2 linked regions of the Homo sapiens genome follow. The protein of the gene in region 1 interacts with the protein of each later gene in a pairwise test. Each region holds a gene or a part of one and is shown in the gene's direction. Other genes may lie near its edges.

Evidence for each region. Proteins that work in one complex are often made in the same cells at the same time.
Region 2: the proteins of PRKAA1 (region 1) and FSBP interact in binary tests that used the Homo sapiens proteins (3 or more experiments, as listed by UniProt).

The regions. Positions count from the first base shown.
Region 1 is NC_000005.10:40,760,324-40,763,986, reverse strand, and holds part of PRKAA1 (5'-AMP-activated protein kinase catalytic subunit alpha-1), read left to right. Parts: exon of another isoform or gene 1-964; coding exon 965-1,209; 3' UTR 1,210-3,663. UniProt on the Homo sapiens protein: Catalytic subunit of AMP-activated protein kinase (AMPK), an energy sensor protein kinase that plays a key role in regulating cellular energy metabolism.
Region 2 is NC_000008.11:94,430,572-94,434,098, reverse strand, and holds part of FSBP (fibrinogen silencer-binding protein), read left to right. Parts: intron 1-1,442; coding exon 1,443-1,968; 3' UTR 1,969-3,527. UniProt on the Homo sapiens protein: Transcriptional repressor that down-regulates the expression of the fibrinogen gamma chain. Represses transcription of GSK3B gene promoter via its interaction with APBA1.

The DNA.
Region 1 (3,663 bases):
CCTTAGCAACATACTGAGACTCTGTCTTTACAAAATATTAAAATATATATATATAGTATCACCTTTGCTTATGGAAGGTTGCATAGAATTATTAGATGAGGTTCACGTTTGAATTTTTTTCTTCTTTATAAACTCAAAGATAGTACACACATAGTAGCAGAAAGACACAGGTTTGAGCCATGATATGTTGGCCAAACCAGTTTGTCTGGTTATCTTTAGGTCCATATAGTACGTATCTGCTAACATATACTAATGCAGTCTGAAATACGGAATGAGTTTTATTTTTCTTGTATTTGGATCAAATTTGCAACCTTAGATTTACTAGTACTGGGGTATACCAATTGAATGCCCATTTTGTTTTTGTACTGTGTTCCCAACCTTAGTTTTTCTTCGATTTTTATTCATTGGAATTGTTGCTCTTTTATGAAATACTAAATGAAATATGAAGGGAAAGTGGAAAGTAAAAAGCACTGAGCTGAGACTTAGGAGAGTTGGGTTCTAGACTTACCTTTCTGTTCATTTGTTACCTTGGGCAAGTCATTTCTCTGGGTTTGTTTTCTTATCAATAAAGTGAGGGGCTGGATGAGATGGTTTCCAGTATACCCTCCAAATTTTAAGTGCATCGATTCTATGATTTTAATATAGAGGGATTACTTTTTATTGCTATAGAATAATATTTATTAATCCCTAGATTGTTGGTTTACTGGGCTCTTAACCTTGGATTGCAACTGATGAGTAGCTATACTGTACCCAACTTTGGTTAGCTATCTTGAGAATACATACTATATGTAAAAAAGATGAATAGTTTAATACAGGCTCATTGACTGTTTTAGAAGGTATTTAGAATAAGCGTGCTCTTGATAGCTGGCCAGCAGCCCCACTTAAAGAAGCAAATTCAATACTGTTACAAAAATTTTTGGGAGAAGGTCATAGACTATAATAAATTGAAATTCTTTTTACCCAGATGAAATTACAGAAGCCAAATCAGGGACTGCTACTCCACAGAGATCGGGATCAGTTAGCAACTATCGATCTTGCCAAAGGAGTGATTCAGATGCTGAGGCTCAAGGAAAATCCTCAGAAGTTTCTCTTACCTCATCTGTGACCTCACTTGACTCTTCTCCTGTTGACCTAACTCCAAGACCTGGAAGTCACACAATAGAATTTTTTGAGATGTGTGCAAATCTAATTAAAATTCTTGCACAATAAACAGAAAACTTTGCTTATTTCTTTTGCAGCAATAAGCATGCATAATAAGTCACAGCCAAATGCTTCCATTTGTAATCAAGTTATACATAATTATAACCGAGGGCTGGCGTTTTGGAATGCAATTTGCACAGGGATTGGAACATGATTTATAGTTAAAAGCCTAATATGCAGAAATGAATTAAGATCATTTTGTTGTTCATTGTGCAGTATGTATATAGCATAATATACACAGTGAATTATAGGTCTCAGGCTTACTTGATTTTTGGCTATTTTATATTTAGTGTACACAGGGCTTTGAAATATTAATTTACATAAAGGCCTTCATATATTATTACGTGTTATATATTACGTGTTATAAATTTATTCAATAAATATTTGCCTAGAATTCCCAAGACCTTTATAGGTGATTTTGTTTTCTGGGCTCCTTAACTTCATAAATAGCTAGTATCTTCCAGCAGTAGTAACAGTCTGGATAACTTCTTCCATATCCCTCCCTCTTTGTTTTTTTGAGACAGTGTCACTTTGTCACCCAGGCTGGAGTGCAATGGTGTGGTCTCGGCTCACTGCAACCTCCACCTCCCGGGTTCAAGTGATTCTCCCGCCTCAGCTTCCTGAGTAGCTGGAACTACAGGCGTGTGCCACCACACCCGGCTAATTTTTCGTATTTTTAGTGTAGACGGGGTTTCACTATGTTGCCCAGGCTGGTCTCGAACTCCTGACCGCGTGATCCACCACCTCAGCTTCCCAAAGTGGTGGGATTACAGGCGTGAGCCACCGCACCCGGCCTCCATATCCCCCTTTTAAAATTCTGTAGTGTATGGTAAGTCATATCAGATATCAGACCTAATTTAAATTTCATTTTAGCTTTACAAGTCCAAAAACACAGAATTTATATATTCAGATACTCTAGCACTAATTTTAGTCTTAAAATATTCCCACGATATTCTGTACACAAAATGTTCTTTTTGTTACAAGAGCTGAGTTGCATATACTGTAGATAAATCATATTATTTTTGCCAATTTCACAAATTCCTCTGGCCCATCATGTCAGTCATTATTGAGTATATGCACACATTGCTACTTATTTGATTATGTATCTTTTAAATTGATTCAGTGCATAGAAAACTATCTCTTACAAACTTTAAGTGCTCTGATATGACTTCCCCCCCAAATTTTATTATGAACATTTTTAAAAACAGAAAAATTGAAAAACTGTTTGGTAAGCACATGTATATCTACCATTTAGATTCAGCAGTTGTTAATGTTTTGTCATTTGTTTTCTCTATACCTATATATGTATAGATACAGCTAGTTATGCATATATATGCATATATGTGTTTGTTTGTGTATGTATATATGCTTTTTTCCCCCTGAACCATTTGGATGTTACAGACATACTTATCACCGTGAAAATACTTCAAGTATCTCCTACAGATAATGACATTCTCCTAAAAATCCGTAATACCATTGTAAAAGTAATAATTCCCCAATATCATCTAATCAAGCCATATTTAAATTTCTGAAGTTAACTCCAAATTTCTTTATAGCTGATTATTTCAAACTAGGATCCAATTAAAGTTTACATATGACACTTGGTTATAACTCTTTAGTTGGATATAACATTATTATTATTTTGATAAAATATGGAACAAATCAATTCTATTAATAAGTGGTCACATTTGTTTTGGGCTTAAATTACTTTTTAAAGATACTGGATTTTCCTAAGATTTCTGATTTACACTGATATTTTTTTTTGTCATTCTTAATTGCATCACACAATAGATGTAAATGAAGATGTAGTCACCTCAGATAAAATTGGTATCGTGTATGATAATATTGTATCATTTATATTTGCCTTATGTTAACTTTAAGAAATTGATTTTTTTGTATTAATCATTTTCCCATTGCAACAGAGCTATATTTTTTCTATTTTAAGAATCATATTTTAGGATTATTTTTGGCAAATACAGTGAGCACTTATGTAACCAGATGATAATGAACTCAAATGTCATGATAGCTTGCATAAATGGTGACTCTAGTAGATTTGACTCAAGCACTTCTAGAATCATGCACTGAATTCAAAAGAAAAATCTTGCTGCTTTTTGTCCAGGGCTTGTTCTATTCAACTTCTAATTTGAAAGCTGTACAAAGTAATAGAAGTTCCATTTAAATATGAGTTCAAAACTGTATTTACTTTTTATGTGGCCCTCTCTTTAGGGGATTCTAATTTTACTTAGGGTCTCTAAGTGCAGCATAATGTTCCTGATGTTAACAGAAGACTGTATTTTTAAAGTTACAAATTTGTATATGGAATTAAGTAATGGCGCTATATACGCTGTTGTGGGGAGGGGGGAAGAAAAGGAGGAACCAATTAAATAGGACCTTTTAAAAATTGTTAATTTTGTAAACTTTGCTTCTCTTATAAGTTATTGTGATTCATTTTAGTTACTGTGT
Region 2 (3,527 bases), on another chromosome or scaffold:
ACATTTATAATTAATTGTTTTGTTTTTGGAAATAATAAAATGACACAAACAGAGACAAGAACAAAAATGAATTTATATAACCTACAAATAGATTTTTTATTATATACTATATATGTTTCATTTTGTCTCTTAGATAAATATCTGATATTTCTGGCAATTTAATGGCATTAGTAAGTAACGTATGGGTAGTTTTAATCTTTTTCTATGCATTCTGCTTGAACTTGTTCCAGCATTTTAATCATCCATGTAGAATGTATTCTTTTAATTATGTTTCTTATTATATGTAAAATCTTCTCTAAATAATATTAAATAAAGTATTTCCATTCATGTTCAATGATCTAATTTCCCTTTATAACTTTTATTTTTAAGTTAGGCAGAAGCATAAATTAAAAAAAACAACCTCAAGGAGCAGATATTCTTAATTCACAGCTTCACGTTATACATAAAATTATGTTTATAAAACAGAATTTTAAGGTTTATTGCATTTATAATATCATAACTTGTTATGCTGAAGCTTAAATTATGCTAAAGCTGTAGTTGTCTCCATTGGGAATGCATATTTGGTGGAAATTATGTGTAAATTTAATAAACCTTTAATATATCTGTATAGGCCATTAAAAATGTTTCATTAAAAAATCATTTAGTTTGTTTTTTTTCAGTCATTCAACACATAATGAGCACCTACTAGGTTCTAAGTACAGTACCTGCTAGGTACTGAGTATACAGTTGTGGATTAAAACCATTGCTCTTGTGAACTTTACCTGACCAGTGATTGAAAGACTTAAACAGCATCTGAGTCATATGGTTCAGAATAGGTAAAACGGAAGTTTTTCCTATCAGATAAAAGCATCTGAAATAAGAAAGTTAGGATAACCTCCAGTAGTTGAGCATATCCCAAAGCCATATACAATCTTTATGTTTTATTTTTTGGGCAAATGCAGAAATCAGTACCTCCCATAGATGGCCTTTCACTGTCCTTTTATAAGTTATGGGCCTTCATGGTTTTAAGATCAGTCCAGGAGAGCAGAAGCCTGAGGTCTAGGGCTAAGGTATGGGGATAACAAGACTGAGAATGCATTAAATGGCTCTGTACACCATTTGAAAACCTTAGGGTTGTGGGAAAGATTGGTGTCTGTTTGACAACATGAAAACTGGCTTTTCTTTTTATTTTCTTCATTGGCCTTCTATAATATTTGTAATTTCCTGCTCCTTTAAAGCACAATTTTAAAGTTAAGGATGGGGGAGATCTGTGAGTATGTATTATTGAAATCCCAATCTTAGTCACTTTAATGTATTTCAAGTGTTTAAGATTTTTTTTTATTTTGTAACTTTATAGTTTTAAAGCTTTATCATTTAATGTACATTAAATTAAAATTATGCTATAAATATACACTTTTTCTTCATTTGATTTACATATTATAATGCTTTTTTGTGTGCTATAGTGCAAACTTGGATGAGGAGGCACAGGCTGGTACCAGTTCACTACAGGTAATGTTGGATCACCATCCTGTTGCTATTACAGTGGAGGTGAAGCAAGAAGAAGACATTAAACCACCTCCTCCACTGGTTTTAAATTCTCAACAGAGTGATACTTTAGAGCAAAGAGAAGAACATGAATTAGTACATGTTATGGAAAGATCCTTGTCGCCTTCACTTTCCTCTGTTGATATGAGAATGACATCGTCTCCATCTTCTATTCCAAGGAGAGATGATTTTTTTCGGCATGAGAGTGGTGAACACTTTAGGTCACTATTAGGGTATGATCCTCAGATCCTGCAAATGTTGAAAGAGGAGCATCAGATAATTTTAGAAAATCAAAAAAATTTTGGATTGTATGTTCAGGAGAAGAGGGATGGATTGAAAAGAAGGCAGCAGCTAGAGGAAGAGCTACTAAGAGCAAAAATTGAAGTGGAGAAGCTGAAAGCAATTCGCTTACGGCATGATCTACCTGAATATAACAGTCTCTAAGTTTTTTTTTCAATCTTGCAATTTGATAATTTTGATTTTGGCCAAATTACTTTAATTTGGGAATATCCTGAAACAGAATACACGTTCTTGAAAAATGTTGTTAATCTCTATTATGGAAAAACTTTTTAGATATAATTTTCTAATTATTTTCTTTTGAGATATTAAAATTTACTGGTTGGTTGGCATGGTTATAGTTTTTATTGTCTTCTTTTTTTTTTCCCTAAGTTTAATTGTTGACCTTACAAAAGATATTTTATTCTGATCACTAAGATATACACAAATGCATATACAAACACATATTCTTTCAAAGTTCTGAGTCTTCAACATTTTTAGTTAGAACTTTGAAAGCTATAATTAGAGATTTTTAAGTCAGTCTAATTTAGGAGCTATACTAACCTAATACCAAGAAGCTTGTCTGTATGACATTGGTTTTTATGCTTTTATCTTTTGAAGGAGTAAATCCTAGGATTTTAGAGATGGAAGATATTTGGAGAACACTTTTTTTCCATCTCTGCAGTTTAGGGGTAATGAAACAGGTCCAGGGAGAACTCAATGACTTACTTAGGGTAACAAAGCTATTTATGGCAGAGCAGAGACCAGCACTTAGTTTTTCTTTGTGTAATTTCCATCCCGCTATTCGATAGAAGTAAATATCCACTAAAACATTCTCTAGATTTAAATATTAGAAGCATTTCTTTCATTAAAATTGCCTTTAAAGATTGTTAGGTTGTGAAATCAGGATAATTACATCAATTACCCCCATTCTCTCTCTATTTTTGTTCCAGCAAAATAGATAAGGTATTCCATTGAAGCTATTATATATTTTGGCTGTGTGATTTAAAGACATGTCTTAATTCATTTTGAATGTCCTGTTCTGGAAAAAATTTCTTTCACAGTAAAAATCAGAATGAACAAAATTAAAATTTTATGTATTTTATAAGTATTGTTATTTTAGTATTCATGGAAATAAAACCTCAATTCTTAAAGCATACATATTAAATTTATATTAAATCTCTAATATGTATGTTACTTAAGAATTTCTATTTTTGCTGGGGTTTTGTTGAGAAGGGATTTTTAAGCCAAGTTGTAGAATGGGGTGGGTGTAATTTCAGCAGTGAAGGGGACCATGGGTGTTTGAAGTCAAGAGTGAGACGCTGGAAAAAAGACAAAAGAATGGGAAAAAGTGGATTGAGTATATAAGCACAAATGCAGTGCTAAGCCATTGATTTTAAGTGAATGTAGAGAGAGTCAATTTGGGCTGTAGTATCCTGGACTAGGAAGGACATCTCCCTGGACTAGGTAGGGTAGCTGCTGTTTAGCTCCAGCAGAATTTTCACATGCGGGGATAAACCAGAAATCTGCATTTTTTAATGAGGAATCTTCCAATTTTAAAATGTTTGCAAATAACACAAAATGCTTTTAAAACATTATACAGACAACATGTGAGTGGGCCTCACTGAGCCATTGGGCTTCCACTTTGTGGCCTTTGGAGTAGACCAATGGTTTTCCAAGTATGGGTCCTGACCAGCAGCATCAGCATCACTTGAGAACTTGTTAGA